Linked DNA regions of Homo sapiens: regions 1, 2, 3, 4, 5 and 6 are each reported to be linked to region 7. Evidence: microRNA targets listed by miRTarBase, many of them from high-throughput screens and not tested one by one. Region 7 holds a microRNA gene; each other region holds the end of a gene's coding sequence. Distances are from middle to middle.
The links. The annotated mature microRNA hsa-miR-670-3p reads UUUCCUCAUAUUCAUUCAGGA and lies in region 7 at 2,845-2,865, opposite strand. An mRNA with a match to its seed (bases 2 to 7 or 8) in the 3' UTR can be bound and repressed. Matches are read on the target gene's strand: a 7mer-m8 pairs with bases 2 to 8, a 7mer-A1 pairs with bases 2 to 7 and ends in A, and an 8mer does both.

Region 1 (4,079 bases), not on the chromosome of region 7:
TAGGCTGGGAACTTGCTCATACCAGCAGGTACTTCGGACTTTCTGGTAAGATCGAGAAGACATCCCACTCACCAGCATTCTCTCCTTTTCAAATCATCTTTCTTTTCTACCAAATTGGAATTCAGATTGGGCAGAGACCCCAGAGGTCACCAAAGCCACTCGTCTCCCCAGGACAGGGAACTGCGGGGTCACAGCCAAGAGCCTAGTGCAGCACTCTCAAGTTCCAGAATACCTGCCCAGCTCAGCCTAGAGAAAGACACTGCCATCTTTTCCTGCATGCGGATCGGTTGACGAGACCAAGGCCCACACCTGAAAACTCTTTCCAAAGGCAGGCAGAGCCATCCCATTCCGTAGCAGCCCTCCAACAAATGGGTGGACATTTCTCATGCCATGACCCCCAGCCATTGACGTGGGTGGAATTTACCAGCACCAGCCGGCCACTGACTGTCTCCTTCCTTCCTTCCTACCTTCCTTCCACGTTTCCTTTCCTTTCCCTTCCTTTCCTCCCTCCCTGCTCCCACCTCGCGCCCTGTCCCTCCACCTCCCACTCCAGATCCGGGTGGTGAAAGCGTTCCGTAGCTCGCTCTATGAAGGCCTGGAGAAACCAGAATCCAAGACCTCCATTCACAACTTCATGGCCACGCCCGAGTTTCTGATCAATGACTACACCCACAACATCCCGCTCATTGACGACACGGACGTGGACGAGAACGAGGAGCGCCTCCGGGCCCCCCCGCCCCCGTCCCCCAACCAGAACAACAACGCCATAGACAGCGGCATCTACCTGACCACGCATGTCACCAAGTCAGCTACCTCTTCAGTGTTTTCCTCCAGTCCCGGGAGCCCGCTCCACAGCGTGGAGACGTCCCTCTAACAAGAACTTGTCTCAGCACATGCGCACACGCACACTCGGACTCACACGAAGTCACACGCACACATGCACGCACACACACATATGGGGACCTGCACACCTGCAAAACGAGGGAACAACTAAGGTGGCTGAAGACCTTTCTGGCAGGGCATTTGCAAGGACCCAAATCCATTCAACAAGGGTGCAGCCTGCCACAGGCTCCTCATCCGGACTGAGGAAGACGAGGACAGGGAGGAGGAAAAGGAGGAAGAGGAGGACAAAAAGGGGGAGGAGAAGGTTCTTCGTCCAAAGGAGGAAGGAGAAGAAGTAGAAAGTGCGAAGAGCTGAGTTCCCCACCTTTTTTTCTATTGATGCTTCTTTTTTAACAAACTACAGTTTTACCGTGTGTTTGCCATTTGAGCTGTGTGGTGGGCAGGGGGCTGGTTTGGGTTTATGGGGAGCTTTTGTTGCACCCATGCAGGGGCAATCAGATCAGCATCTTCATGCAAAAAAAAAAAAAAAGTTGAGTGCTCTGCAGGCCTGTGAAGGGTGCCACCTGAGGGAGCCGCCTGCAAGCGGCCCTGCAGCCACAAAGCAACCCGCCCTCTGCAAAAACTAGGCACATCCGCAGTGCGCATGTGTGTGCGTGCATGCACATATGTGTATGTGTGTGGATCTGTACACACACACGTATATATGGCCAGATGCGTATTTCAATAAGGAACTATTTACTGGCATGATATTTGCATTCCTCTTATCAGGCATTTTCATTTGGAAATTTCATTATTGAATGTAGCAAGGTTGTAGTTGTTTTTTTTTTTTTTTCAGGGAACTAGACTGCAAGAATATCTTTCTGGTCAACCCATTTTTGTCCCTCATCACCCCGCCCCCACCTTTCGCTCCTGCCCTCTGCCCGGCCCTACTGAGATTCCCAAGGAGAAGGCCGAGAGGGGGCGCTCCAGGTCTGGAGCAGGTATAATTGGAGCATTTGCACTGAGACCCCTGCCAGAGAGGAGAAAACCCTTTCAAGGGAAATTTTAATCTAAAAGGAAAAAACCAAAATATTGATGAGAAGGAGTCCTCCAGTTAGTGAAAGGGGAGTTTCGTTTTCAGCTTTCTTTGGTTCCTACTCCAATTCCACATCCTTCATCCTGGCCATGCCCCCACCTTCAAGAGCATGAAGCACTCTTGGAGTTGTGGGTCCTGCCCAGAGTCCAGAGAGCAGCCTCAGCTGAGCACAGGTCCGAGGGGGCGGGGGCAGGGCCAAGAGTTCAAAAGAAGCCAATGGAGGGAGAGGGAGCGTCAGAAGCCCGGAGGAGCTGGTGGTGGGAGAATGACGGCAGGGACGCAGCCACAGTTCAGACCCTGTCCCCTCAGCACCTGGATGGACTCCCACTGTTTGCTTTGGCAAATGCCGAGGAGTCCTCGGTAGACCACCTTGATGTCTGCTGTGACATCAGAGGTGCCACCACCAAAGCACTCTTCCCACCCTAGTCTTTGTGTCCAGCGGCCAAGCTTAAGCCATGAAGTCATGGATTTGTGGCTCAGCACCAGGTCCTGAGGGGAGCGTATCCTGGCAGTGTGGGCACCTGGTGGCCAAGCCTCAGTTTCCCCCAAATGAGCAAAGGGGATAAAGAGGGGCCCGACTTTTGCCACCCTCCTGAGGAAGCCCCTAGGTCCACACAGTGATGCCATGGGGGACCCTTGCCTTCCACACTTGCAGGTGTCACGTTTTGCAGGGAGGTGTTTGGGCCTTGGGCTCAGCCACTGGGAGACAGTTGGGACCTGAGGGACAGAGGATCGGAATGGAAACCACCAACGTGCACTGGCACCCTCAGAAGGCTTGTCTCACCTCCACCGGCATCCACACAAAACCAAACAGGAGCAGGCGTCATCCCCACTATTCCCATGAATGCCATGTCACCCCTGAGCAGAAGCAGTCAAATCTTGGGCAAAAGAATTTCGGTTAGAAAAGAAAATCCCACTTTAAAATGCCAGCTGCAGATAACTCAAAGCCATCCCTTTTTTCTAAAGGGCACATTGAGAATGTCACCCATTTGTAAACTGTTCCCTGATGTCCTTGTTTAAACGATAATAAGAAAAAGGGCAACTCCATTTGTTGAGGGTCTTTGTGTTCTTCAATGAGAAATCAAATTTGAGACGTTGAAATTGGAGCTGCGTGCTGCTGCACTCACCGGCTTCTTCTCACTCTCTGTCGTAGACACACCGATAGGACCAATGGCCAATAGATATTAAAAGCAAACCCTCACTGCTGCTGTATAAAGTTGCCTAATGTAAATGTCTATTGTTTAGTCCCTAGGTCACCTTTGTGCTGTGCTGTGGAGTTCAGAAACGGGGTACCATGACCTGGAATCTTTTGCTCTTGTTTTTGCAGTCTTCAAGGCTGGGGGCCCTGTCTCATTGGGAAGCCCCTCTTTATAAAGCATTATATTACTTGGAATGGCTTGGTCAACTGTGTTCAGTTCATAAATATGTTTTACATTTTTATCTGCCTGTTATAAAGATGAACAAAAAAACTTAATGAGAAAGATCACAGATACGTAATAATTTAAAGTCTGTAGTTGAATTTCCTAACTTAAAGAATAGACCAAAATTTCTGTGTATAAAAAAAAATGAAAGGCTCCTTACATCCTGGTCTGGGTAACGTGTGTGATTTATTATTTGGTGAATTATTGTGCAGAACAAAACAAAGGTGCCTTCATGCCTCTTTAACAGAGCTGGAGAAGCCCCGGGCAGGAGGGGCTTTCCCCTGGGTGTGCAGCAGCCTGGCCGGATGTGTATGCAGAAGAGGAACTTATGCTGGGATGTTAGGCCCCCAGTGGGAGGGGCTCCAGCTGCTGCAGGAGCCGCGGCTGTCTTGACTTGAAAGGGCCTCTAGTACACGGCGCGGTGGCTCAGTCCTGTAATCCCAGCGCTTTGGGAAGCCGAGGCGGGAGGATCCCTTGGGCCCAGGAATTTGAGGCTCCCCGACACACATGCACGCTCCCCACTTCTTTTATTGTGGTAGAACACAGATCACATAAAATGTACCACGTTCACCATTTGTAAGTGTGCGGCCCAGGGGCAGAAGCACATTCACGGTGCTGTGCAGCCATCACCACCGTCCAGCCGCAGAACTTGTTCATCTTCCCAAACTGAAGCTCTGGCCCCGTTCAACCCCAACTCCCCACCCCCCAGCCCCTGGCACCCAATCTTCTACTTTCTGTCT
Region 2 (4,079 bases), not on the chromosome of region 7:
ACCAGAAGGATTCCTGGGTCCTCTGAGTCCAGCCTGTCCATCACCCTGCTCCAGGCGGGGTGGCCACAGCCTCAGCCATCACTCTCAGCCCTGCCACTGCCTTGCTGAGAAACCGTGGGCAGTGAGTGCCTTGTTCTCTCTGGGCCTCAGGAGCCTCATCCTCATGGCCTGAGGGACTGGGCTTGGTGGTTTCTGGAAGCCTTTTTAACACCTGACTGTCCATGTGCCTGGTGTCCAGGAAACACGCTCCCAGTCAGGTGGGGCCACTGGTGGACAGCACGACAGAGGCAAGCGACACCAGCTTCGCAGGAAAGAGGCGACCCAGCTACACTGCCTGCCTCCCACCTGACCTTGAGCGAGGATCTTCTCTCCCCAGCCACAAAGGGCTGCTGCATCCCTAGGGAGCCTGGGCCCGCACAGCTGCAGCCGTCTGCTATCAGGCCTCTCACCCCGGCGCCTGCGCCCCCAATACCAGCGCTCCTTACCTGCCCAGCCCGGGAGCCCTCTGGCCCCATTCACATGGTCCTCCTGGCCTAACCTGGCTGCCTGGACAGTCTCAGCTCCCTTCGCCGTCGTAGCCACCACCTGTCTCCCCGCGCCCACGTCCCACCCTGACTTCCTGCCTCCTCCGGAGGGCTCCGCAGCCAACCGGGCCCCAGCAGCCCAACCACAACCCTCTAGCACGCCAAGCTTCCTGCCACCATAGACCCCTGCCTCTCAGCCCCTGGGGGTCCCCTACATCTCCAGACCAGGTCCATCTTCCCCTACTGTCCCAGGGTGACACTGGGAGGTTTAAAGTTGAGGGGAGGATGTCTGATAGACCCTCCCTTCTGCCCTCCAGGGTGCATCTGGGCAAGAGATTCAAGGGCAGCCTTTGGGCCCAGTGAGCAGGGGGCAAGCGGACACACACTCAGCTTATGGTGAGAGGCAAACAGCACCTCAGCACCACCGTTGCAGCTGAGAGACCCTTTTGTTTCTGTCTGGCAGCAAAGGTAGCATCGTTCAGAGTCAGAGGAGAGGACAATATCCCTGTTAAATAGCTGGTGAGCAGACCATGCATGTTACAGTCAGGTCAGGCCGAGAGAACAATTCCCATGTCATCTCAGGGCATGGAACAGTAGCTTTATTATAGTCAAGGGTAGGTGAATGGCAGGCTACCATCCCTCTTACAGACAGAATGCTGGAAAACAGCCTGTTTCAGGAGGCAGACAGGACAACCTCATGTCTTCAAGAGGGCATAGTAACGGCCCCTGCTGTAGTCAGAGGCCAGGACAACACCCATTAATCATGGTTGGAGAGTAGGGCAACAGTTCGAATTCAGGTAGAGGCAAGGCCACAGCCCCTGGCAGAGGTGGAGGGCTTGGCACTATCTCCTGCAACAGGTGGAAGACAGAGCAAACAGGGCCGCTCAGGCCCCCAGGTGCAGGCCACAGACTGTCAGGACTTTCTGTTATAAGCAGGAGGCAAGAAGATTGTCACGAGCAGCAGGCAGGCAAAGAATTTCCATTTCCCCTGGGGCCAGGCTGAGGGGGCACCCATCATTAGCTGAGGGCCAGGTCACCAGTGATATGAGGAACTCCAGGTGGCCTCATCAGGTCCAAGAACTCGGCCTTGACCCCACCAGGAGGAAAGTGCACATGCGTCACTGCCTGAGTGAGCTGGTAGGGGGAGGGGAACCCACAGAGCATTGTTGGGGCTTGTGAGGTGGAAGCGATGCTGTGTGCACCTCAGCTGCAGAGAGAAGTGGGGGCAGGAAATAGGTGGGGGGAAGAGGAAGCCTGAGTTGGAAAGTCAGACAAAGAGGGTAACACAGAAACAAAGGCTGAGAGAGACAAAGTGAAAAACCTTCACAGTGACACAGAGCCTAGAGTTGGAGCTCCAAGCCTGGTGCAGGGCCCAGACTCCCTTGCAATGTAAGCCTGAACACTTCACGGTCCATCTCCCTGTCTCAGCACAGAGTAGAAAGACTGCCGCGCTGGGAGTGAGTAATAGTTCATATTCACTGAGCGCTCACTGTGCACTATCTCCCGTAAGGCACATCTGCTGCCTGTGGAGTGAGAATCAGCATCTCCATTGTGGAGGTGAGGAAACAGACTCAGGGGTTAAGGGAGCTCCTCAGGGTCGAATAGAAATAAACGGTGGCTCAGGCCTGTAATCCTAGCACTTTGGAAACCCCAGGCAGGTGGATCACTTGAGGTCAGGAGTTTGAGACCAGCCTGGCCAACATGCTGAAACCCTGTCTCTATTAAAAATACAAAAATTAGCCGGGCATGGTGGCGGGTGCCTATAATCCCAGCTACTCGGGAGGCTGAGGCAGGAGAATCGCTTGAAATCGGAAGGTGGAGGTTGCAGTGAGCCAAGATCGCGCCACTACTCCAGCCTGGGCGAAAGAGTGAAATTCCATCTCAAAAAAAAGAAAAAAAAAAGAAAAGAAAAGAAAGGAAATTAGCTAGGCGAGGTGGTGGCCACCTGTAATCCCAGCTACTTGGGAGGCTGAGGCAGGAGAATCGCTTGAAATCAGAAGGTGGAGGTTGCAGTGAGCCAAGATCGCGCCACTACTCCAGCCTGGGCGAAAGAGTGAAATTCCATCTCAAAAAAAAGAAAAAAAAAGAAAAGAAAAGAAAGGAAATTAGCCAGGCGAGGTGGTGGCCGCCTGTAATCCCAGCTACTTGGGAGGCTGAGGCAGGAGAATCGCTTGATCCCCGGAGGCGGAGGTTGCAGTGAGCTGAGATTGTGCTACTGCATTCCAGCCTGGGTGACAGAGTGAGACTCTGCCTCAAAAAAAAAAAAAAAAAAAGAAGCAGAAGAAATAACAACAACAAAAAGAAATAAACGGGGTAGCTGGCTTTGAACCCATGTCTCTCAGATTCTGCATTCTTCAGGAGCCCAATTTACCTAAGTCACCTCCCATGGGCCTGCAGTGAACTAGGGTGGTCCCAGTGACAGGCGACATTCAGATAGCGGCCTTGGGCCTGAATAAACGACTGCAAGAGACCTTGATGGGAACCAGAGAAAGCGTTTATTGAGGAGTTTGAGGGTGTGAGCTCCTCCTCCTCCCCCTCCCAGCTGGGTCAGCAGAGGAAACAGGATGCTGGGGTTTTGCACTCTTGGAATTCAGCTCTCAGAAACCTGAATGTTCCTCCTCCCCCGCCAGGAGCTGGTGCCTCTGGGGCACCCCTCCCTTTCCTCTTCCCAGGCAGGCAGGGGAAGCGGCATTGGGAGAGGGGGCGGGGAGTCGGGGGGCACAGGTGTTCCTCAGCAGAGGGTGAAGCGCCGGGCGCTGATGTTCATGCGCGTGAGGCCCAGGTGCCGCAGCAGCGGGGCCAGGGCTAGGCCGGCCCCGGGCTCCAGCTCCAGCTCCAGCTCGGCCTCATCCAGCAGCTCCTGGTGCAGGTGACAGGCTTGGTCCATCTTCAGTCGGTGCAGCTGGGCCCGCAGCCGCAGCAGCTGCCCTGCCAGCTGCCTGTCCTGCGCCTGCATCTCCCGCTGCGGCCGAGAGGGGGCGTGAGCCTACTGGACAGGCCCTCGGCCGCGCGCCGTTTCTCCCTTCCTGGCAACGCTGGGCCTTTGCACTGACTGTGTCCTCCCCAGCCCCCTCTCACCTCAGCTTGATCTCTCCCTATCTCCCAATCTGGCTTCACCTGGTGGTTCTCAAACCCAGCTAAGGAGTCATTATTAAGCAAATCCAACTGCCTGGGCCCCATCCCAAATCAACTAAGCAGAATCTCTGTGTTGGAGCCTGGGTATCTTTATATTTGCACATGTTGAGTTGGGAGCCACCTACTGAAACTTCACCTCTTCAGAATCTGCCTGCAGCATGGCCAGTGCCTCCTTTTGCACTTCGCTGTATCTTTAGGCCATAGAAAGTCCCAGAGTAGGGGAGGCTGTGTATTTCCCTATTTATAATGGTGCCCCACACCCCCCAACACCAGTGCTCTGTCCCCTAAGCAACAGGAGCACAAGGTCAGTAGATTGGATGGAATCCTTCTTCAGCAAGCCTCCCTGAATACAACACTGGACAAGTCCATTCCCGGCTCCTCAGCCCAGGACACCGGAGCGGGCGGTTGCTGGAGGCAGGG
Region 3 (4,079 bases), not on the chromosome of region 7:
AAGTGCTGGGATTACAGGTGCGAGCCACCGTGCCCAGCCGGAATTAACCTCTTATGTGATCATCAGGAACTGCATGTGTTCAATGTCTTGATAATGTTACAATACAAGATGATAAGTTGCTTGGAAACTGACTGCCTGTATTCAGTATATGAATTCAGTTGTGTTAACCTGATATATATCTTAAACATTTCTAGTAAAGATGTTATAGTTTTATGTTGATAAGACATGAACCAAAATTCACATTTTAAAAACAAAGTCTTTTTAAAAAATTACTCAACATTAATGCTATTTATGAAGAATAGCATTTAGTCTAATGTGAAATATCTTTTTAGGAATTTGTCTACTAATTTGTACTCAGTTTGTTTACCTTGCTGTCTCTAAAATCCGAATTCTTAAAATTTAAGGATTGTATTATTTCTTTTAAGAATGAATCCTAAGAATTTTGTAATATGGAATCATTGTCATTGTTTTATTGATAATGGGCATTTTTATTTTTTATATAGATCTCTCTGCAAGAGTAGATGCAGTTAAGGAAGAAAATCTGAAGCTAAAATCAGAAAACCAAGTTCTTGGACAATATATAGAAAATCTCATGTCAGCTTCTAGTGTTTTTCAAACAACTGACACAAAAAGCAAAAGAAAGTAAGGGATTGACACCCTTCTGTTTTATGGAATTGCTGCTGATCATTTTTTCTTTAAAACTTGGATAGATTCCAAAAGTTACAGTACCTTTGTGGCTTCATTGAATATTTATGAAGATAATGTCAGATGTAGACAAAAATAACACAATAACAGGAGACTTCCATAAGTTTGTGTATTATGTTAGTCTATGAAAACGTGCAAATGTATTGTAGAGACTTTATGATTAGAATTGCATATATTTATGAAACTTAAAGATGAATGTTTTATTGAATTTGTAGGTTTAGCACTGTCTTTTATTATAGGATTAGTAAGATATACAAGAAAATAACCACCGTGTTGTGAAAAAGTGACCAAAATCATGTACTAAATGCACAGCTTTATGTACCCTGTCCACCATCTTGTGCCTCTTCTCCATTTGCCTCTTCCTTCCTATTTCCCTTCCGCTAAGGAAAAAAATTGGTGTCACATTTGTAAAAGTAATTTTAATAGTTAATCATCTCTGAGAGTAACCTGTATTTTAATTGTTGAAACTTAACCAAAATAAGATACTGTCTCAGCTAGGGCTTGTCATTTGTGTATTTAGTGTTAAGATAGGAATGCTAGTGTCTCTTTAATTAATTGGAAATAGATGGAGGCTAAAAATGAAGGTTTTTCTTTGAAACTGAATTAACTTGGGAATATTTGTTGTTAAAAACTTCTTTTTGCCCAAAATAACTCATTTTGTATTATCTGAAAATATATAATTTCTGGTCATGTGTATGTTAAAATAGAAAATTTTGAGGAAAAATGGAAATAGGGTGGAAAAGTACTCGGTAAACAGTAGTAACCAAATATTTTCACTCCAGATTTGTGTTTTCTCTGGCACAGAGTAGATCTTTTGGGAAATATATATGAAAGTGGATTAAGTTTGACTACCCTTATGTTAGCCACATCTGGATGAGAACAGTTACAAAGAGTTTGGTCTCTAAGTTGATTTGTACCCAGTGGGTCAACTTCTGCAAAATTCCGTAATGGTGTATTAGTATTAGAATAGTGAATAAAATGGGAAAGTTATACATGTATACTTATTATCTTGCTCAGTATTTTATCTCACTTGTTCTAGAATTTTCTGTAAACCCTGCTACTGGGTTTGAAGAGTTTTAGTCATCCTTTAACAATTTTTAAAAATTTAGCTTCTAGATTCCATTTGGTAAGGAAATCAATATTGGAAGTATTGCTAAAATCTTATAATATGAAAAGAGATCCACTAATGTAGCTTAAGGTTATTAGATTTGGGCTTTTAATCATGGAATAATCTTATGTATTGGTGTAAGAGTTGATGAATGACTTTAGCTGTGTGAATATATAATAGTCAAACTGCAAACATTTTGCATCCCTTTTGTGACCTAATTTACAGACATTTAAATTGTGTTGCAGTTCTGCTTTGCCGTTTAATAAAAAGCTATTTCAGAGGTTGTGTGTGTTTTGATATAGTTGCCTAAGTAAATGGGGTATTTAGGTATAGTGGTGTATCCAGGGTTATTCAATGCCACAGAATAGTGTATCTTATTTAAGTACCCAGTTACTGATTATTTAGGGGAATAATATTTTTATTAATACAACTATAACTGGTTATCAATATAAATATCATAGGCTATTATACATTAATTTGGAAAACAAAAGCAAAGCACTCAAAGGATCCAGTATCTCCAGGGAAAAAGGAAGTTGTATTTTTTAGGGTAGGCTAAGCTACTTTAGCAAGAGACCCAGTGATAAAGAATATAAATATAGAAGTTTCTCTCCCAACCAGTGGTTCCAAGGTCAGCATTGCAGGCTAGCAGCCCTTGTTCAAACAGTTATTCAGGGACTTTGGCTGAGGATGGTGCTGCCATTTTAAATCATGGCTTTCAAGTCACTCTAGTTATTCTTCTAATTTGCAGAAAAAGAACATGGAAGTGTACATATGCAAGGTGTTATGGGCTGTGCCTGGAAATGGCTCATATATCTTCTCATATTCCAGTGGTGTGGAGACTTAGTTACATCTAGATACAAGAGGAGCTGAGAAATGTAGTCCCTGGCTGGGAAGCCATCTTCCAGCTATAAATACAAGATTTTGGTGGCTGCTAGCAGCCTCAGCCACAGCTCTTCTTGTGCTACCAAGTATCTTCCCTTACACAGAAAGTAATCCCTCTTCATCCAGCTAGTGATTCAGCTCACAATCTAGGATCTCTATTAAAGGTCCATCCCTTTACATGTGGCTTCTAATAGTCTGACAATCTCTAAACTGATAGGCAAATTATTTGCTCTCACCCTTGCTGCTGCCCATTTATAATGTAGTTGGGACAGGATGGCCAAATAAAAAGTCTCAATTTGGAAAATGGAATAAAGGGAAACGTAAAAATTGTGGAATGCTCCTGGGAGATGTATGAAGATTTTGTCCCTAGCAGTGGAGAAGTTCCTTGATTCAACTATGATTCTGATCTCTGGCAGGGGACTCCCTTGTTCATTGAACTCCATGGTTTCCCCTCTGGAAAGTTACTCCTTATCCATTTTCTTCCATGGCTACCTCAGAAGTAGAGATTGGGTGTTCACTCCATGGGAATTGTGAAGACAGTCCACTTCCTGCTGGTGTGAATTTGGTGCCCATCATTTTAAGGCCAAGCTCATGTTTCTGTGGAATACGATTCTCTCAAAAACTCAAGCCTTTTTATCAGTGTGCTTCTGATTGCATATGCCGAGGAACCACAACCAAGCTTTTGACCAAATTCTCAAAGTATGTATTATTTTTGCCTTTCTTTAATGGAGGCTATCTTGAGATCAACTAAAAATAAGATTACACTGGGAATGTTACATGCAGATCATCACTGCAAAGCTGGGTTCCTTTGGCTTAACGATTGGTAGAGAAGTCTTCATGGGCTTCCCCCCAATCTCCCCCACCTCAAAAATAATTTTGAACCTTTGCTGCTATTCAGACTTCAGAAACAATTGGCTTAATTTCATGAGGTTCCTTGTATCAAAACTTTGTCTATTCCCTTCTATCTTTGCTTGAAAATGTCAATTTTTTTGATACCTTGCTGAAAGCAAGGAATAGCCAATTCACTTAACATTCTGGCTTTTTCCAGCTAGAGCTATCAGATTAGTAGGTGTCAAAATATATCCCCACTGCTTGTCATGTTAATGGTAAGCTAATGCTATATACTTAGTTTTTGCTATGCAATACTTCAGGATAATTTCTTCATTAGAAATATAGGTGGTACACAGTGTGCACAGGGACTGTGTCCAGCTTCTGGAAAAGACTCGACCAAATTTTAGACAGGCACCTCTGAGCCCTGTTTTTGACTAGTCCAGTTTTAGCAAAAATCCTGCTAAATGAGTTTAGAGATAATCCCATCCTCAATAACTGATGATCGTCAACCTGGCCTGTCTTTGGCAAGAATCACCCTACTCTTGATGTCTCC
Region 4 (4,079 bases), 14 Mb from region 7:
CCTTCCTTCCTTCCTTCCTTCCTTCCTTCCTTCCCTCCATCTTCTCCACGCCTGGTATCATCATACAGAAGCAGAGAGGACTGCACTTGGTGAAAGTTTCAATTCTCCTGTGTGGAGAGGTGAGCACTGAGGAAGGGGTGGGGGCTGTCAAAGGAGACTTACCCAATCTTTCCAGCCCACCAATCCCTTGCCCAGTGTTTCTATAAAATAAGGGCCTTTTGCATCTGATTTAAGTAGGAAGCTGATTCCTGAGCCCCTCAGATCTGCTGAATCAGATAGCTAAGGGGGCCCTGGAATCTGCATTTTAGCAAGCGGAGGTGGGTTATGAAGCACTCCAAAGTTTGAGACACGCCTCAAAGGTGGAGTGGTTCTGTGGGGGGCAGAAAGGAAAATGCAAAGGGGGAAGGGGTCACACTTGGGGAAGGTTTCAGACAATACCGAGTGGAAAGGGTGATGCCAGGTGTGGGGAGTAACAGATAGAGGAGGCAAAGTGAGTGGAGACCAAGCCAGACCGGGGAGGAGGGGGCCACAGCCAAGGTGAGACAGGTCAGCAGCCAGAAACCGAAGCAGACACTTGCAGGGTGCACCCCGCCCTCTCTTCGTGGCAATCTGAGACCGAGGACGTGGAGACCCTGGAGAGCCCCCAACCTTGTTTCTGGGGGGTGGGTCAGAGAGGAAGCCTCTCATCCCCGGGCACCAGCGGCCTTCCCGGGAGGCTCAACACGCAGATACCTGGATAGGCGTCCATCACTCCCCCGGCCAGAGCCCACCAACGCTCCTCGAGGTCCGACCTTGTCCCTCCTTCTACCCCACAGTCCCCAGTCCTAGCTCATCTGCATAAAGCTCCAATTAACATGTTTTTCCTTTGCTATTTGCGATCCCAGAACTCGTTCCCCACCCCGAGCCCGTTTCCCGCCGCCTCCTCGCCCCTGGGAGGGCGGCCCCATTAACCCTCGCGACCCGGGCCGCTCCTGGCGGTCCTGACCCCGCCACCCCGTCCCGCGGCGGGGGTTTGGGGGTGAGGGGCGCGCCCTGGGGCAGAGGATTGCGCGGCAGGGTCTGCCACAGGGCAGAGGCCAGGGCTCTCCGGGAAAAAGGCAGGCGCATATATGCCCCCCTTTCTGGGAAAAGACGGGGAGGGGGGCTTCTCCTGGGAGACTCCAGGCTTCGAAATTCCTCGTTCCCTATCCTCCGGCCCCCGCACCCCTCCTCCTCCCCGCCACGCACCCTCTCCCCTCCCCAGCCATCTGTTCCACTCCGCAGCGCCGCGACAAACACGGCTCCAGCTCGCTTCCGCCCCTGCCCAGCCCCCTCCCCAAGCCCCGGGGAGTGGGGGAGTGAGCAGACGCCCTTCTCCTAGGAGGCCGGAATTTCTGCCTCCATCTCCCACCGGGGTCCGGCTGGCCAGAGGCAAGCTTCGAGACCCCCCACCAACCACCACCACCGTTGCGAGGGCCGGTGAGGCTGCAGATAACGCTTGCAAGGACGGGAGTCGGGGAGGGTGTAGGGCGAGTTTAAAGGACGGGCAGAGCAAGCCCCGGGAAGAGGCAGGGGTTTTCCCTCCCGGGTCGCCGCCCCCCGCACCCTCGGAGCCAGCCGCAGCCACGCAGCGCCGCCTGCCGGGCACACCAAGGACCTGGCGCGCACGTGGCGCTTACCCCCACCCCCGGGTCCGCTCCTGGCTCGCGCTCAGCCTCCCCAGACTATTCGCAAATTGAGGATCCCGGACACAGAGTGCAGAGACCCCGGCAAGCCTACTGAAAGCCAGCCGAACCCGCTGGTGGGTGCTAGCCAATTCTGATTTTGTACTTTACAAAAACAAAAAAAGTCAGTGTTGGAAGTCGGGAGTCTGGGCTCAGAGCAGCAGGGATCTGCGATGTGACTTTGCCAAGTCTCCAGACCCCTGAGGACAGGTTTTCCTATCTGAAAACGGAGGGGACAGTCTCTCTTATTAACTTCTCAAGAGAAACAAAGACAAAGGGAGGGAAAATGGCTTAGCTGGAATGCTGTCTTACAGAGCCAACCTTTGGAGGTGGGGGAGATGGCCAAGGCCTCTGAGGTCACTCTTGGCCCCAGGAGCAGCTGAGAACCGGAAAGAAGCTTGGGACCTCCTTTCTGCAGAGCTATCCTTTCCACAGACTGCCGAGGTTCCAAATTGAGCTCCACCACCTAACACTGTGTGCCCTTGGGTGTGTGCCTTAACCTCTCTGGGCTTGTTTCCTACAGCGACAAGAAAGAATGACAACACCAACCTCTTAGGCTATAGTTTGGATAAAATGAGATAGCTGTGTAGAACAGACAGATCCTAAACCAATGTTAGTTTTCCCTTCATTTGGGGACTTGCTCTAACCTCCAGGGCTTATGTCCCAGAGGCACAAGCAGGTGCAGGGCTGGATAAATAAGGTATGTCTTTCTGCAGGATCTCTTGTCCTCACTGATGGTGTCTTCTCTTGATATAGATAATTTTAAAGCTTCACGTTATTTATTTATTTACTTTAAAGCCTCACTTTAATGTTAAAGGTAAATGTAAATATAGTATAACAAGGAAGCTCAAAATTTGCATAAAGTTTTAAGATAAAATAGGAGACTCCAAAAAAGTGTTACTTTCGGCAGGCCCTAGGGATGCTATGGTGGGAAGTTTGAGTCATACCTTAGCATTCTTTCTAAAGCATTCTGTCCTAATCCTCTGTATGGAGAAAAGCCAGCTTCCTGGATGTACCCCAAATCCTGGGAAGTAGGGGGCAGGAGCTGGACTCCCTCCAAGCACTAAGGGCAGGGCATGGTTGGGAACAGGGAGGTGAGCCAGACAGCCAGAGGCGAACGGGCTGGCATGCCAAGCGTCCTAGTTAATGCCCAGCTGAGCCTGGGTGAAGAAGGATGGGGGTGTGGGAAGACACCCCCCACCAACCGCCAAAGACAGGCGCACACCAGCCAGTCTCTCACTTCCCTTTTTATTTCCTCTAAGACTTGCAAGCAGCAGCACCAGAGAGGGAACCTGCCCTCCTGGCCCTGGAAGGGGCCGACCCCCAACCCCTAACCCAGGACACAGCTGGCACCTCAGGCCCCTTTCCTTCTGAAAGGAGGGCTGTGTCTCTCTCACATTCACACATACACAGACACATGCATGTGTGCACACTCATGGCACATGGGACCTCAGGGGTAGCCTGTTTGCCGATCCCCCCAAGAGGTACCAGGAGGCAGACCGCTAGAAGGAGATAAGAGGCACCCTGGTCTCCTCCAACCCAAGGAGGAAGAAGGCTCAACCCCTCTAGGATAGGGACTGTCTTCAGTCAATGGAGCGTTGACTTAGGGGGCGTTTTTGAAGGTTTTTTTTCCTCCTTTTTGCAGTCTTTACAAAAATAGAACTTCTCTTGGTATTTATAAATCTACGGCCATGGCTCTATGTGCATGTTACAGGTAGAAAAGCCATATGGGGCACTCCTTTTGGTTGCTCAGGCCTTGATTGCCTGTCATCCAGGTCCCTTGGTCTGAGAAGTCTATGCGGTCACCTCAGAGCCGCTAAGCACCTTCAGTGGGCCCATCCCATTGGCGGCGTACTCCTGCTGGAGCCGGGCACGGTAATAGAAGAGGTAGGAAGGCAACAGGAATCCCAGGAGTGAGAATAGCAGGAGGCCCAGATTCACCTTTAGGGCAAGGAGAGAGAAACAGAGTCAAGTAGGTAGTCATCTGCCCTTAGCCTCCCACAGGGAGGAGAAGGCGGCCATTTTTCTCCAGGTCCTGAGCCAGAATAAATACAGCTAGTACTTATTATGTGTAGTCATTGTTCCACCAGTATCTCACTTAATGTTCAGCAATTCTGCAAAGTGGCTGAGATGAGACTTCTCAGGTATAACAAGTGGCAGGGCCTGGTGGGTGCCCACACCATATGGCACTCACTAGGTAGGTATGAGGAAGGCACAGCACTGTAGGAGTCTGGGCTGGTCAGGCTGCTCCCGAAATGGGGCCTTCTGGGCTCACCCCTCTGACCTTTGGAGATGTTAACCAATGGGATCCCGTTCAGGGTGGCGAGAGGAGGCTCTCAGACACAGTTCAAGGAACTGGGATGCACAGCCTGGTGG
Region 5 (4,000 bases), not on the chromosome of region 7:
TTAGGATAGTTTGATGCTTTAGCTAGCGATTAAACTGAATTGCATTGGGTCATTACTATAAAGTTAGAAAATTACTCTTGTTGCAGATAAGATAGTTTACTTTTACATCTCAATTCACTGGAGCCGCAGTTAACTAAATGTATTAAATGACTCAGTGTAGCCTCCAACACTTAATAGACACTCACAGACCTGGCAGAGTCTAGCACTGGATGTCCTGTTAAAATACTGGGTTTCCTCCAGTTATCTATGTTGATTATTTATAAGTATAGCATCATTTAATCTATCAGTAGAGAAGTCCATCAAAAATTTTAGAAGTGTTCCTTGGGGATGAGGGTATTAGTTCAATAACCTTTTTTTTTTTTTTTAACAGAACAACTTTTTATTTGAACTTATGTTTAGTAACAGTATGTCTCATATTAAGACAACTTTTGGATCTTTTTTTCCAAATGATCTCTAGAACATTACAAATTTTATTTTCTCCCCTAGGAATGCCCAGAAAGAGGATCGTGTTCCAGTGCTTGAGGAGTACAGAGAGTACAAGAAAATTAAAGCCAAGCTTAGGCTTCTTGAAGTTCTTATAAGCAAACAAGATTCTTCAAAATCCATATAAGATACGTTCCTTGAAAATTCATATCATAAAGTCAGTTGTATTCCTTGAAGCTATCATCGTGTGTACTTGGCTGGTACTTAAATTCGTTTTGTCAGGCACTCAGAGAATCTCATTTTGTACTTGGTTGTGGTGCCACTAAACAAAACAAATGATGGGAGAGTAAGTAGGCCCTCTCAAGGGAGCGTAAGTGATGTTCCATATTAACCACAGACTGTCCTCTCCACCTTTAGCAAACATATGGTTTACTTCATTGTTTTGTACTACAGATACATCCTTTTAGCAAAAGACTGGAATTTTATCCTTTCAACTTCAAGAACTTTGGAAATGCAAGCTTTTTGTTATTACCAACTTTTTGTTTCTCATTACTGAAGAAAATTGGAGGAAAATCTTCATACTGAATTCTTCTGTTGCCTTTTTCTTACAGAATGACTGAAAATTTGAAAGAAAAGCCTATAAAAGTGCACATACGCAACTGTGTTCTCTGTTTTCCTAGAAAACCAAAATCAAACTGAGATTTCAAGTCGTACTATGGAACACCTTTCTGTTTAATTCCCAAAGTGACATCTTCTCACAGGTAGTATGTTAGTAAAATTTTGCAATTCGCTGGTCACACAGCTCCCGGATGAAGATAACAGTTGGTAGACCAAAAGGTGACCTCGCTTAGTATATTGAAAACACACACCACACATCACACACAGAACTGAATCATACCACATGCTGCCTATGGGACTTCAGTTACTGTTTCCTGAGTTACTGTTTATCCGCTGGCAATGGTGTGATTTGTCTGGATCAGATCCGCGCTATTCCCCAACCCACCTCCAGATAATGTGAGAAAATAGCCATGTCAGTATGTAGGAACTCTGATGGTGCTCAGATTTGTGTGTTCAATCAATGGGCTTAAATCAGCAAAATATTATGCCTAAAGTAAATCTGTTCTTAACAAGGGCTCTACCACTGCATTTTCACATGTACCTTCAGGGGGTTATCTTTTTTTTTTTCCCCTCCTATTTTAATCAGCAAAATCCATACCAAAACAACGACAACAACGCCCTCTTAAGGGACCACCCTTTGGTCAATCATAACATGCTGTTTAAAGCAGCTGTTTACAGGATGTGTAGTGGTATGCCCCTTGTCATATACTCTTAGCATATCTTTTTTTCCTTTGGCTTTGCATGGCTTTTCTTCAGGTACTGTCTCGGTATCATTCTGCTAATCATTGTTACAGAATGGTGACTTCATTTGTGCTAACAGTACAACAGCAGATTTGGGTCAGGCTTAATCTAAGTGTTAACTTTTTTTTCTGGTGCTTTTTTGGATTGATGACTGTCTCACTTTGACTATACCCATGTTTTGCATGCAATGACTCATGCATGGTTTTCTTAACTAGCTAATATTAACAATTTATTCCATATAAAAATGGAATTTTGCAACATCCTTTAATAAGGTGAGGGAAGCATGAACCTCAGACTTCTGGCACTATTACATAGTAAGCACATGAAGTAGTTTGATAATAAATAGCAGTTCTAGTACTTCACATTTCACCCGTGTGTGCAATGCCTTTTTCTGGGGGGTGGGGGGTGAGGGAAAACCTGGTAGTGAATGTGTAGTTGGGGAATAAAGAAAAGCACTAAATCCTGCCCTTTTTGTGTGGTTTCCTTTTGATACAACTAGGTTATTCATAATGTATACCTAGAAAAGTGAAATTGAAAATACCAAAAGATGTATCATTTTTATTTGAATCCATCATGCAGTGTACATTTCAGATAATTTCCTTCAGTCTCCAGATAGGAGTGTATCCAAACATCTAATTTTATGTGCACTGTGTATCTTATATGAATGTTTTATTTTATATACCACATGCAAAAATGTCCATATGCACTATTTAAATGTTTTAAATAATATATTCCTTCTTTATAATGCTAAATCTATATGAGTACCATATTTTTATAAGTCAGTGGTCTGACTGGTTTCATTTTAGAATTAACAGCTGCTTCAATATGTTATTCAATGTTAATGTTTGGCTGTGAGTAGAATATGTAAAAGTGGCATGGCAGCACTTATGCTCTGTGACAGTATTGTGTGTCATAGTTGAGCAGTAGCTGGTAGAATTAGGCAGTTGGTGATAGTTTTACTTTGGTACAAATAAAAACTGTATATCTATATACAAATAATATATAGATATATATGTCCACCAGTATAATGGCATTGCTGTGTCTGGCACTTCATTGTACAGACTTTTATAATAAAAGAACTTGAAAGTTCTAAGTCATTGTAAATGTATGTTTGTTTTTCCACTGGGCTTAAAAAAAAAAAAAAGACCTCAAGTGTTCCCTCAGCTTAGGCTTTGTTTAAATGATCCCACCCAGGGGCGATGGTAGGGAACAACAGGGTCACTAAACTATTTGGCTGGCTACAACTCTGGGAAATGGTAAGACAGGGAAAGGCCATGTTGTTCATTCCCTTGTGCAGATCTAGGGAGAAGCCGCAGAGAGAACAGTTAGCATTTCTTGTTACAATGAATTATCCTATTAAGAACACTGGATGTACAGTCTCTTAAGAGAAGAGCTTGTCCTGAGGAAGGTGAGTAGTAATCTAAAAATGTCTTTATATTTGAGTTTTAAAATTCAGGAACTATTGAGCATCAATGTGGAAGTTGAGTGCTGAGGTCAAATGATGTTGCTTGGGCTAAGAGAACATATGGCTATCGTAGGGGGGCTTACATAGCCTAGAAAAATTAGAAGAGTTTCTCTCCAATTTCCAAAATGCCAGCCACACACAACTTTCCAACCCTCCAAATAAGGCTGTTACAGCATCCTCATTTACACTTTCCAAACATAACTTATGACAGTGATACGCCTACCCTGCTCTGTATTTTATTTTTGGGAAACCTTAAATGCATTACACCTTAGAAATGGTCTAGGTAAATTTCCAGTTTGAAGATGTTAGTGAGATTTCTGTAGGTGGCTGGGGAGTTTGTTCTACACTTTGGCTTTTTCCAGAAGGCTTCAAATTCTAAAGAATGGAGGGAGGTTACTTTACTTGGGTCTTATATAATGGTTTCCCAGAATCCTAAGCCTTTATTAATTTATCTGTGGCCAAAGGAATTCAGAACATGGTACCTGACGCACTTGATAGCATCAATAGTTTTTCTACTCTGTAACTATGAGAAAACTGTCTTTCTCTACCTACTGACTGAACTACTGGAGACCTGCCGCCTGAACTAGAAGCATTTTCTTGTACTTTCACTTTTCTAGAATTTGATAATAAACCTCATTATAAAATCCTTTGTACCAGTGTGTGTATACTGGAGGCTTGTCATAATATGCATGGATTGTATAGTGAGTCCCTGTCAGAGGCACTTCATTCTGACCCTAAGGATAGTTTGATGAT
Region 6 (4,079 bases), not on the chromosome of region 7:
ATGGAAAGGATACAGGGAACTGAGCCCCACATCCAATTCCTTACTCCCTTGACAAATAGTCATTAACAGTAATAAGAATATTATTGGTTTGTAAATTGGGTGTTATCTAAGCCAATAAAACATTGTTGATTATAGGTTTGGTGTTTTGACCATTAGCTGACATTTGATTAACCTTTTTTTCTATGATAAGAGAACCATGGTCACTTTTAAGCATATAATGAACTTTTATATTTTTAACAGAAGATAATTGTTTTAAAATATTACACTTATTATGTGTAATTATGTCTACAGGGCTCACTCAGCTATCCATTTTTGTTGTCTGTTGGGGAAATACTCCTTAAGAGGATTGTGTGCACAATATTAAGTTATCATTAATCAAATATTCTCTTCTGGGAGATAATTTTTATGTGTTAAAGTAGTCTCACTATGGAAAAACTTCTAATATAACTATTAAATGTCTCTCCTCACTTACATTATTTTTAGAGTTACTGTGACAACAACATACTTTGGCCACTCTGAACAGATATCCCAGGAGAGGTATCAGTATGTCGACTGTGGAAGAAACACAACTTATCAGTTGGGGCAGTCTGAATATTTAAATGTACTTCAGCCACAACAGTAAAAACTGGAAGAGATGGATTTAAAGAAGAAATATCTATTGATATTTCCTATACTCTCAATGAAGAGGTATTTCCTAATAGGAGACCTTAAATTGAACAAACCTAAAGTTTACACTTCTAAGAGTACAGTTAAAAGTATGTGGACCTGCAGTTCTTGTAACTCTCCACTCTGTGTTAATGATATATTTGTACTAGGATCTTTTACTTGAATCTAAATTTACTGGTTGATTTCCTTCTCCAGCCTATCCCCTACAGGGAAAAGCTGATACTTCCCCTATAGTACAATAAATAATTATTTAAAAGTCATAGCTCCAGTCACTACTGAAAACATAATTTTGGTGATAAACATAATTTGAGAAACTTAATTTCTGAATGTTTTTATAGAAAATTACTGAAAGTCTATTACTCATGGAAGACTTTTAAAGAATAACCTTTTTTCCTGTTTTATAAATTCCCATTGTTATATGGTAGTATTTCAGCTACACAATATTTTAGCTTTTAGCTAGACATTTATAGCTTTTCATTTGTTGAAATGGTAATCATCTGCATGTTTTTGTCACTTATTTCAGGTTAGTGATTGCCTAACACTTATAAGCCAAAATAATCTTTGCAAAATTCCATACCTAAAATTTTGAAAGCCCCTAATGTTTTCACACATCTTTCTGTATTAGTTATAGTTTTGTGAAATCTTTGTGTGATCTTCAAACATTATCATTTAATGTACAATACTGTAAATAAACTGTGCATGGCTTTTATACAGCTTTAGTAAATGTCAAATAAAGTGGTACAGACTCATTACAACAAGTTTCTCATAAAAATACAATAAATAGGAAAATGAAATTCAGAAACCCATAGACTGGGAATAGGTTCCAGTTACAGCTTGGATCTGGCATAAAATAAATTTGAAATAAAATATTTTGATGCTCCATTTTTTTATGTTGCTTTTCATACTAAAGAATGGTGTAGACATGTTTTGCAACTGTTAGGTACCCAGTTATCAATTTTATCAATGTTTTAGAGGAGGAAATTATTTTTTTGGTAGAAATTGTTCAAGAAATCCTTAATTGAATGTCATTAAATGATGGTGGCCAAAATAAAACCTATTTAGAAATTTAATCACTTTGCACATCACTTGGAATATGATGCCTCTAGTAGTTACTTTTTTATAGTTTTCTACTTTTGGTTTTATTTAAAATTGTTTTCAAATATAGATTATTGACTTATTCAACTTTGCTGTTTTATATTTTCAGTATCATTTTTCATTTTTTTTTTTTTTTGTCTTTTCACTTACCAAGTTCTAGGGACATTTAAAATATGTACTAAGTGTAGGAGTGGTTATGATACCAAAAAATGTAGCTGGGTTGAGATTAATTTCGTTCTGTTTTCTCATGACAGAAATCAGGTTTCCCTTTCCCCACCCCTAAGTGCCTAACTTAGGTCTGAAACAGCCTGTTTATTAGTCTGACTCTCTCAACCATAAAACATAAGCTTTATTTAATTCTGCCTTTAAACACACTCAGGTTTCCCCTTAATTTTCATATTATTTTCTGCAAGTTTTCTTGAGTATCTTCAATTCGTTGAATGTGGTTTTTGGTTTTTTTTTGTTTTAACACTAGTCTTCCCTTAATTCATTGCTAACTCAAGCCATCCTTACTATTAAACCCAAATCAGTCCTTTAAGTTCATTATGGCCTTTCTAGTATTTAAAAAAAAAAAAATCATTTTCATTTTTCTTCTGCTACGTTTCCTGACTACTACTGCATACTTCTCTGATACAGGTTCTGTTTGTATTTTTTATATCATTCTCATTTTCTCATTTGACATGATCTATGTCTATATATGATATAGGTCCCCTTTTGTCTCAAAATTTTTAATTATGTGACTTCAAAAATCACCTGTATCTGTAGTAGGGCTTCCAAATCTGCTTCTCCATATGTGACCAGTCACCTGTCTGCTTTCACATTTAGCTAGTGAACTACACATTTACTAAAATGTGTAAATTTTACACATTTAGTGACTGTGTAAAATAAAAAAAAAGTTATTTTATCATATCCTTTCTATTATGTTCCCATCCTGTCCTCATGTCCCATTTACTTTATTATCACCATTCATTTCTTCAAAATTATCTTTTAGATACGCTCATACAAAAATCAATCCTTGTTTTCTTGCTTGTGTCTTTTAACCTTGGAAAATTACATCGTGTAAATTAAACAGATTTTTCTGATGATCTGTGCTTCTTATATACTATTAGAGTGCATGATAGTATCTCCTGAAAAGGATGGAAAGTAGAAGCATTTGCTTTTAGTCACTTAATTTTGAATCTTTTTTCTTCATCTTTTGAATTAATTTTTTTTATTATATCTACTTTTAGTGGAGTTTGAGTCAGAAAAAAACAAGAATTTGAAACAAGTAAAAAGATAGAAGAGAAATAAAGATGGTATGTGACTACTTTCAGAGAGAGTTAAGTAACTGTCAGAATAAGCCTGGAACAAAACAGGCTGTAAATTAATAAAACTACAAACACACATTCAGGTGAAGCAGAAGTATAGCCATAAAACATCTAGAAAGAGTGAATGAGGCTTTTAGCTTTTCTTAGGTCAATGTCCAGTGTGCTTTTTTCCATGGGAATAGGATAGGTATTAATACGCTTTTCTAAACTGCTCTCAGACCTTATCCAGAGGACATGGTAAAGATATGTTACAGAAATTTTTCTGATACTTCCTGGAATAACTTTAAGTTACACCCTAGTAGACTGGTCATTCTAATAAAATCCAGTACTATAACAAACCTCTGTATGTTGATAGCACATTGGCCCTTTTTAGAGTTCTTTCCTATGTTTTTCTTACGTGATTTCCCACAGTTCCATGAGTCCAACAAAGGAGAGTGATAGGCTCCTTATCTTTTAGAAGAGGAAGGAAAGGCATGAAGAAGTTGAGGGACTGGCTGAAGATCACGTACTTACTAAGTAGTACAACTGGAGCAAGATCAAGTATCTCTGTCTCCCATATCTGTGTTCTATCATTTAAAATATATATTGGAAATCCCTGCTGACTCAGATTGGTATGATTAAAAATGAGAGGAAAGTTCAAATAGTTAGTAGTGACAAACTAATACTGCTGGACTAAGATTTTGGTAGCATTGTTTTCTAAAATATTTTAAATGGAGAATGAACACTTATAAAATGCTTTGGAACATAATCTTTAGCTTAATTTTCTGTTAAAATTTAGTACCCCTTCATCATTCCAATAAAGATAAGACTGATCCATTGTCTAAGGAAATTATTTATAAATAATAGAGATTAATTTATTTGAGATTTGAAATAAGAATAGTATGAAAATATTAGATACCACATAAATTGTTTGAAATTACTGAATAACCATCTTAAGTATGGAACATTTAAATGGCTATATTTTATTTGTGTACAGTTTTTCTGTGCCTTGTTAGGCCAGTGAAGCAATTA
Region 7 (4,079 bases):
GGTATAATAGCTAAAATAATAATAAAAAATAAAAGTGATAGACATTTGGTATGTGCCAGGCACTGAGCCAAGCCTTGCAAATATCAACTCAATGAATCGTCACAATAACTTTTTGAGGTAGGTCCCCATTTTAAATGTCAAGAAACTGAGGCTTAGAGAGTTTAAATAACTTATCAAAAGTCACATAACCAACCACATATAAGAGCTAAGAAAGATTTGAATGCACGCCTTCTTGGCTGCAAAGCCTAAACTATCCACAGTTACACTGTACTCAGGATGCCATCCAGCCTATCAGAGACCTATGCCTACTCCTATTGCTGAGTGAGATGGGAAAGAGAAAAAGGCAGGATTTAAAAAAATTTTTAATATCTGCCTTTGTGCACACACATATTACAGAAACACATGTATCACTTACTTATCTAGAGTGCTTTAAAATGAGCCAACTCACTTCTGATTTCATTCTCAAAATAACTGTGTGGGGTAGCTATTATAATGTGAATACTCCCATTGTTTAGGTATGATAAGCAGTTTACGAAGAAGCGAAATAATTTGCCCAAGAGCATACATCCACATGGTTGCTTGAACCTATGTGGTTTGATGCCAAATTCATAGCTCTTTCACTATAACATAGTGCCACAATAATGAGACATACTCTGAGTCAGCTAACATTTATTAAACACCCACCATGGGTCAAGCACCGTGCTAGGCTCATTTGTAAACAGTCAATCATTATTCATTGATTGGTCTTCCAGTCCACTAACTGGACTGTCGCTGCAGCAGTCTCCAAGTCTAGTAAAGGTTTTATAAAATAATAAGCAAGAATAATTCTTTTTCTTTTTCTTTCTAGGTACTGTCAGTAGCCTAGACCAAGCTAAATATTTCTCAAAAAAAAAGGGTGTTTGTGTCACTTGAAGGAACAGGCTAGAAAGGAAAGCTATATTAAGCTTGAAAAACACAACTCTCAAAAACTCTCAAAGTCCCTCAACCAACGATGGAGGGTCCATAGTCTTCATTCTCTAGGTTGGATATATTTTTAATGCTATTTTATTTACAAACTAGTCCACCTCACATCTCTAAGATGCCCTCTAGCTTTGCTCCCTAGTAGGTGAGGAGCAAAAGGCAGTTGATGAAGGCAGGAAAAATACTCTTTTTATTGGGTCCATCAGGAATGTAGGCCCGTCTTCCTCTAGACCCTTTAAACATCAAGCCCTGCTTCTTCCACAGCAACATCAATTGAATTAATTGCTAAAGTAATTTCTGAGAACTTGTCATCCTGGGCCAGGAGACCCCTGGGCAGACCTCAGAGCAGTTGTGAGACAAACAAGAAGCAGCACTAAATAATTAGCACAATTATTCATGAATCAAACCAAATATATTTTATTACTTTCAGGTGGTGAAACCTAAGTACAGATCAGTCAGGGTATCTCCTGGATGGGACCAAGCTTGAAAGTGGTGGGTGGGGATTGGAACCCATGCTTCATCTGCAAGGCTTGGGCTCTAAGCCACGGCTTCAGTGAAGAGATCAGCAGATGAATTCTCCCCTCAAAGCTGTGATAGCGTCACCAGGAAGTGGTGGATTTTCACAGAGTGGGACTTGCTTAGAGGAGAAGAAAGTCCCAATGGGTCAAAAATGGAGGCCGTTCAAGTTTTTTTTTGCTGCGGATTCAATTATTCGCTTGACGAAGGAAGATGAGTAATAGGGTTCTCAGCCTGAAGTCTAGGTTACTTCTTACTTCCTCCCACCTGGATTGACTTCAGGAGCGTGCAACTTGTGTAGTTGCAGGGCCCTTGGCTCAGAAGAGCTCCATGGTTGGTTTAAGATTCTACTGTTATTGTCTTGAAATTCTTAAAAATTTTGTCTTTGAACCCGTGTTTTGTAAGTGAAGTCTATGGGATAATAGAGAATGTGTGTGCCCATCCATCGTTCCTGTCCCACAATGTTGGCAGTAGCCCATGCGTACAGAATTCCAGTGGGAGCTCAGTGAGACTCGGGGCAAGTAGAATGGAAAGTAAGCCTATGACTACACAGACGGGGGACACAGACAGTGCCCAGAGGTCATGCTTTCTGTTTGAACCAGATGCTTCAAATGCAGAAGGAAGGCAATAGAGTTCTAAGAAACACTAATGCCTAAGGGACCCTAAAGTAGCATTTCTTACTTATGTTCCTTCCCTGTATTTGCCAAACACCTATGCTGAAAATGTTGACACAGAAGGAAAGGTGAAGATAGAGCAATCCATAGCTATTTCTCCTCAACAGCAAGCTGAAGGTGGAGAGTGCTGGTACAAAGCGCTTGTATCAAGAAGTGAAATAAAAACACTGGAGTTCATTTTGTCAGCATCTCCATTGTTCTGGTAAGAATGAAATACCTATGCATATGCGACATATGAAATGTGAATTGTGTAATTTCAGTGATTCTACAAATGAGTTAAACGCTCTTGTGTTTACATTTACAACTGGCATCACACAATATAAAGATGAACGGTAAAATTCATGCTAAAAATTTAAAATTTTTATTTTTATTTAGCACCACATGAAAAACAGCAAATAAAAAACCACCATGACGATTCTAGAGAGAGATTGTGGAAGAAAGACAAAGGCATTATATTTAGGCACTTTCTTCCTGCTTTTTGAACAAGGGGCCCTACGTGTTCATTTTGTGCCAGGTTCCATGAATTCTATAACCAGTTCTGCCCCTGCCCTTAGGTTTCTTTTGAGAAACAGGGCAAGCACCAGGGCTCATCCAAGGTGATGAAGATAAAAGTCGGACTTCATTCTTGCCATAAATGAGTAGACACCTGCTTGCTGTAATGCTCTCCAACGTCGCGTGAAGGGGCAACTGACACTCCTGAATGAATATGAGGAAACCCAAGGCAAATTCAGGTTCACCACATACACTCAGGGACATCAGGTCCACCCCTAAACTGGATGAAGAACGTCTCAGCTGGCATCTTCGGACTTGACAGAGAGGAAGAAGGTCTGTTTCCTTGTGTATGTGGCTCATGAGCTGACGTGGGCTCTCGTGGGTTCTCATGTGGAGAGAACCCTGGGTACCCACATGCATACTGTTGTGGTTTTTGCACATATATGTGCATGTACACTGCACATACATGTCTGCATGTGACAAGTGCTTGGGCACCTGGTAGAACCTGAGAGAGGTGGTCTTTCCATGGATCTCCGGGGAAGGCTGATGGACATGAAATACTTTTTAGGTGCTATTCTTCTGGAACTTGGTCCCTAGAAGACCACAGCTCAGAGTAAAGAGAGATACTGACAGTCTTGGAGGACTGTGGAGAGCAGATGGCTATAATTCCAGGACCAGATTTTTTTTTCTTGTAACCACTTCCCCCACAGCATTTATATCAAAGGGAGACAAATACTTGTTGACTTAAGCAATAAACAGAAACAATTTCCTTCTGAGAAGTGCAACACAAAGAAACCTGATGCTTTCCGGGCTGTGGAAGACTCTCCATCCCCCTTCTTGGAGCAGGACCTTCAGTGATATGGACAGTGGGTGTCAGGCCAGCTGACCTGGTTTTACTTCACACCGGCAGATCCAGGGATGCAGCCACCATCCACTCTGCTTTATTTAGTGAGACAGCACTTCATACCAACAGCAGGCTTAATCACAGTCTATACCAACATTTCACTTCCCATTTCTATGTCTGTACTCCTTGCCTTTTGGTTATTTGGGGTGGGGGGTGGCAATAGCATGCTGATTCTATCTTCCAAGCACCCTCCCCAAATCTCCTACTTCCCTGCTGAAAACGATTCCCTTCTCATGTTAATTTGATGACCCAGCCAGCTGCACCCCTCCGCCCCCGCACCCCCAGCGCAAAAGAAAAAGCCACTACCTTACTCCTTCAGAATTACATCCCCGCTCAGATGGTCTTCTCAACTACCAGCCCAGTCCAAAGAACCCTCGTCATATTTCCAGGCTCATCTGAACCAGACATTCAAGTAGTGCCCCCACACGGATATTTAAGGACCATGGAGGAGGGGGTATTCCCTCCTCCCCCTGTGTTCCACCTCCCAGAAGTGGCTGCTCTTCAGAGTGGAGGTGATTCAGCTTTCCTAGAAG

Region 1: the mRNA of ATP2B3 is a reported target of hsa-miR-670-3p. Seed matches in the 3' UTR shown: 7mer-m8 at 1,084-1,090, 7mer-A1 at 1,106-1,112 and 7mer-m8 at 2,512-2,518.
Region 2: miRTarBase lists FAM167B as a target of hsa-miR-670-3p. Seed matches in the 3' UTR shown: 7mer-A1 at 3,183-3,189.
Region 3: miRTarBase lists SCOC as a target of hsa-miR-670-3p. Seed matches in the 3' UTR shown: 8mer at 1,420-1,427.
Region 4: miRTarBase lists SLC43A1 as a target of hsa-miR-670-3p. Seed matches in the 3' UTR shown: 7mer-A1 at 3,332-3,338 and 7mer-A1 at 2,955-2,961.
Region 5: miRTarBase lists FAM13B as a target of hsa-miR-670-3p. Seed matches in the 3' UTR shown: 7mer-A1 at 989-995.
Region 6: the mRNA of TMEM106B is a reported target of hsa-miR-670-3p. Seed matches in the 3' UTR shown: 7mer-A1 at 1,641-1,647 and 7mer-A1 at 3,696-3,702.

Annotation. Positions count from the first base shown.
Region 1 is chrX:153,579,425-153,583,503 of GRCh38, forward strand. ATP2B3 (ATPase plasma membrane Ca2+ transporting 3) reads left to right here. Exons shown (of 22, transcript NM_001001344.3): 22 at 554-3,505. The coding sequence ends at 874. Among named protein-coding and RNA genes, the nearest start is that of CCNQ, 18 kb to the right of the region's middle.
Region 2 is chr1:32,247,778-32,251,856 of GRCh38, reverse strand. FAM167B (family with sequence similarity 167 member B) reads right to left here. Exons shown (of 2, transcript NM_032648.3): 2 at 3,001-3,486. The coding sequence ends at 3,256. LCK (LCK proto-oncogene, Src family tyrosine kinase) reads right to left here and starts at 592. Exons shown (of 13, transcript NM_005356.5): 1 at 486-592. RefSeq lists enhancers at 1,240-1,329, 1,380-1,589, 1,780-1,989, 3,218-3,377.
Region 3 is chr4:140,380,459-140,384,537 of GRCh38, forward strand. SCOC (short coiled-coil protein) reads left to right here. Exons shown (of 4, transcript NM_001153484.2): 4 at 504-4,079. The coding sequence ends at 646. Among named protein-coding and RNA genes, the nearest start is that of SCOC, 8.9 kb to the left of the region's middle.
Region 4 is chr11:57,481,599-57,485,677 of GRCh38, forward strand. SLC43A1 (solute carrier family 43 member 1) reads right to left here. Exons shown (of 15, transcript NM_003627.6): 15 at 2,936-3,644. The coding sequence ends at 3,498. Among named protein-coding and RNA genes, the nearest start is that of RTN4RL2, 23 kb to the left of the region's middle. RefSeq lists a silencer at 1,417-1,746.
Region 5 is chr5:137,936,835-137,940,834 of GRCh38, reverse strand. It overlaps FAM13B (family with sequence similarity 13 member B), which reads left to right. Exons shown (of 24, transcript NM_001385994.1): 24 at 487-2,875. The coding sequence ends at 610. All of the region lies in intron 14 of PKD2L2 (polycystin 2 like 2, transient receptor potential cation channel), which reads right to left. Among named protein-coding and RNA genes, the nearest start is that of PKD2L2, 49 kb to the right of the region's middle.
Region 6 is chr7:12,231,354-12,235,432 of GRCh38, forward strand. TMEM106B (transmembrane protein 106B) reads left to right here. Exons shown (of 8, transcript NM_001134232.2): 8 at 484-4,079. The coding sequence ends at 622. Among named protein-coding and RNA genes, the nearest start is that of TMEM106B, 22 kb to the left of the region's middle.
Region 7 is chr11:43,558,500-43,562,578 of GRCh38, reverse strand. MIR670 (microRNA 670) reads right to left here and starts at 2,923; the gene lies at 2,826-2,923. It also overlaps a transcript of HSD17B12 not described here.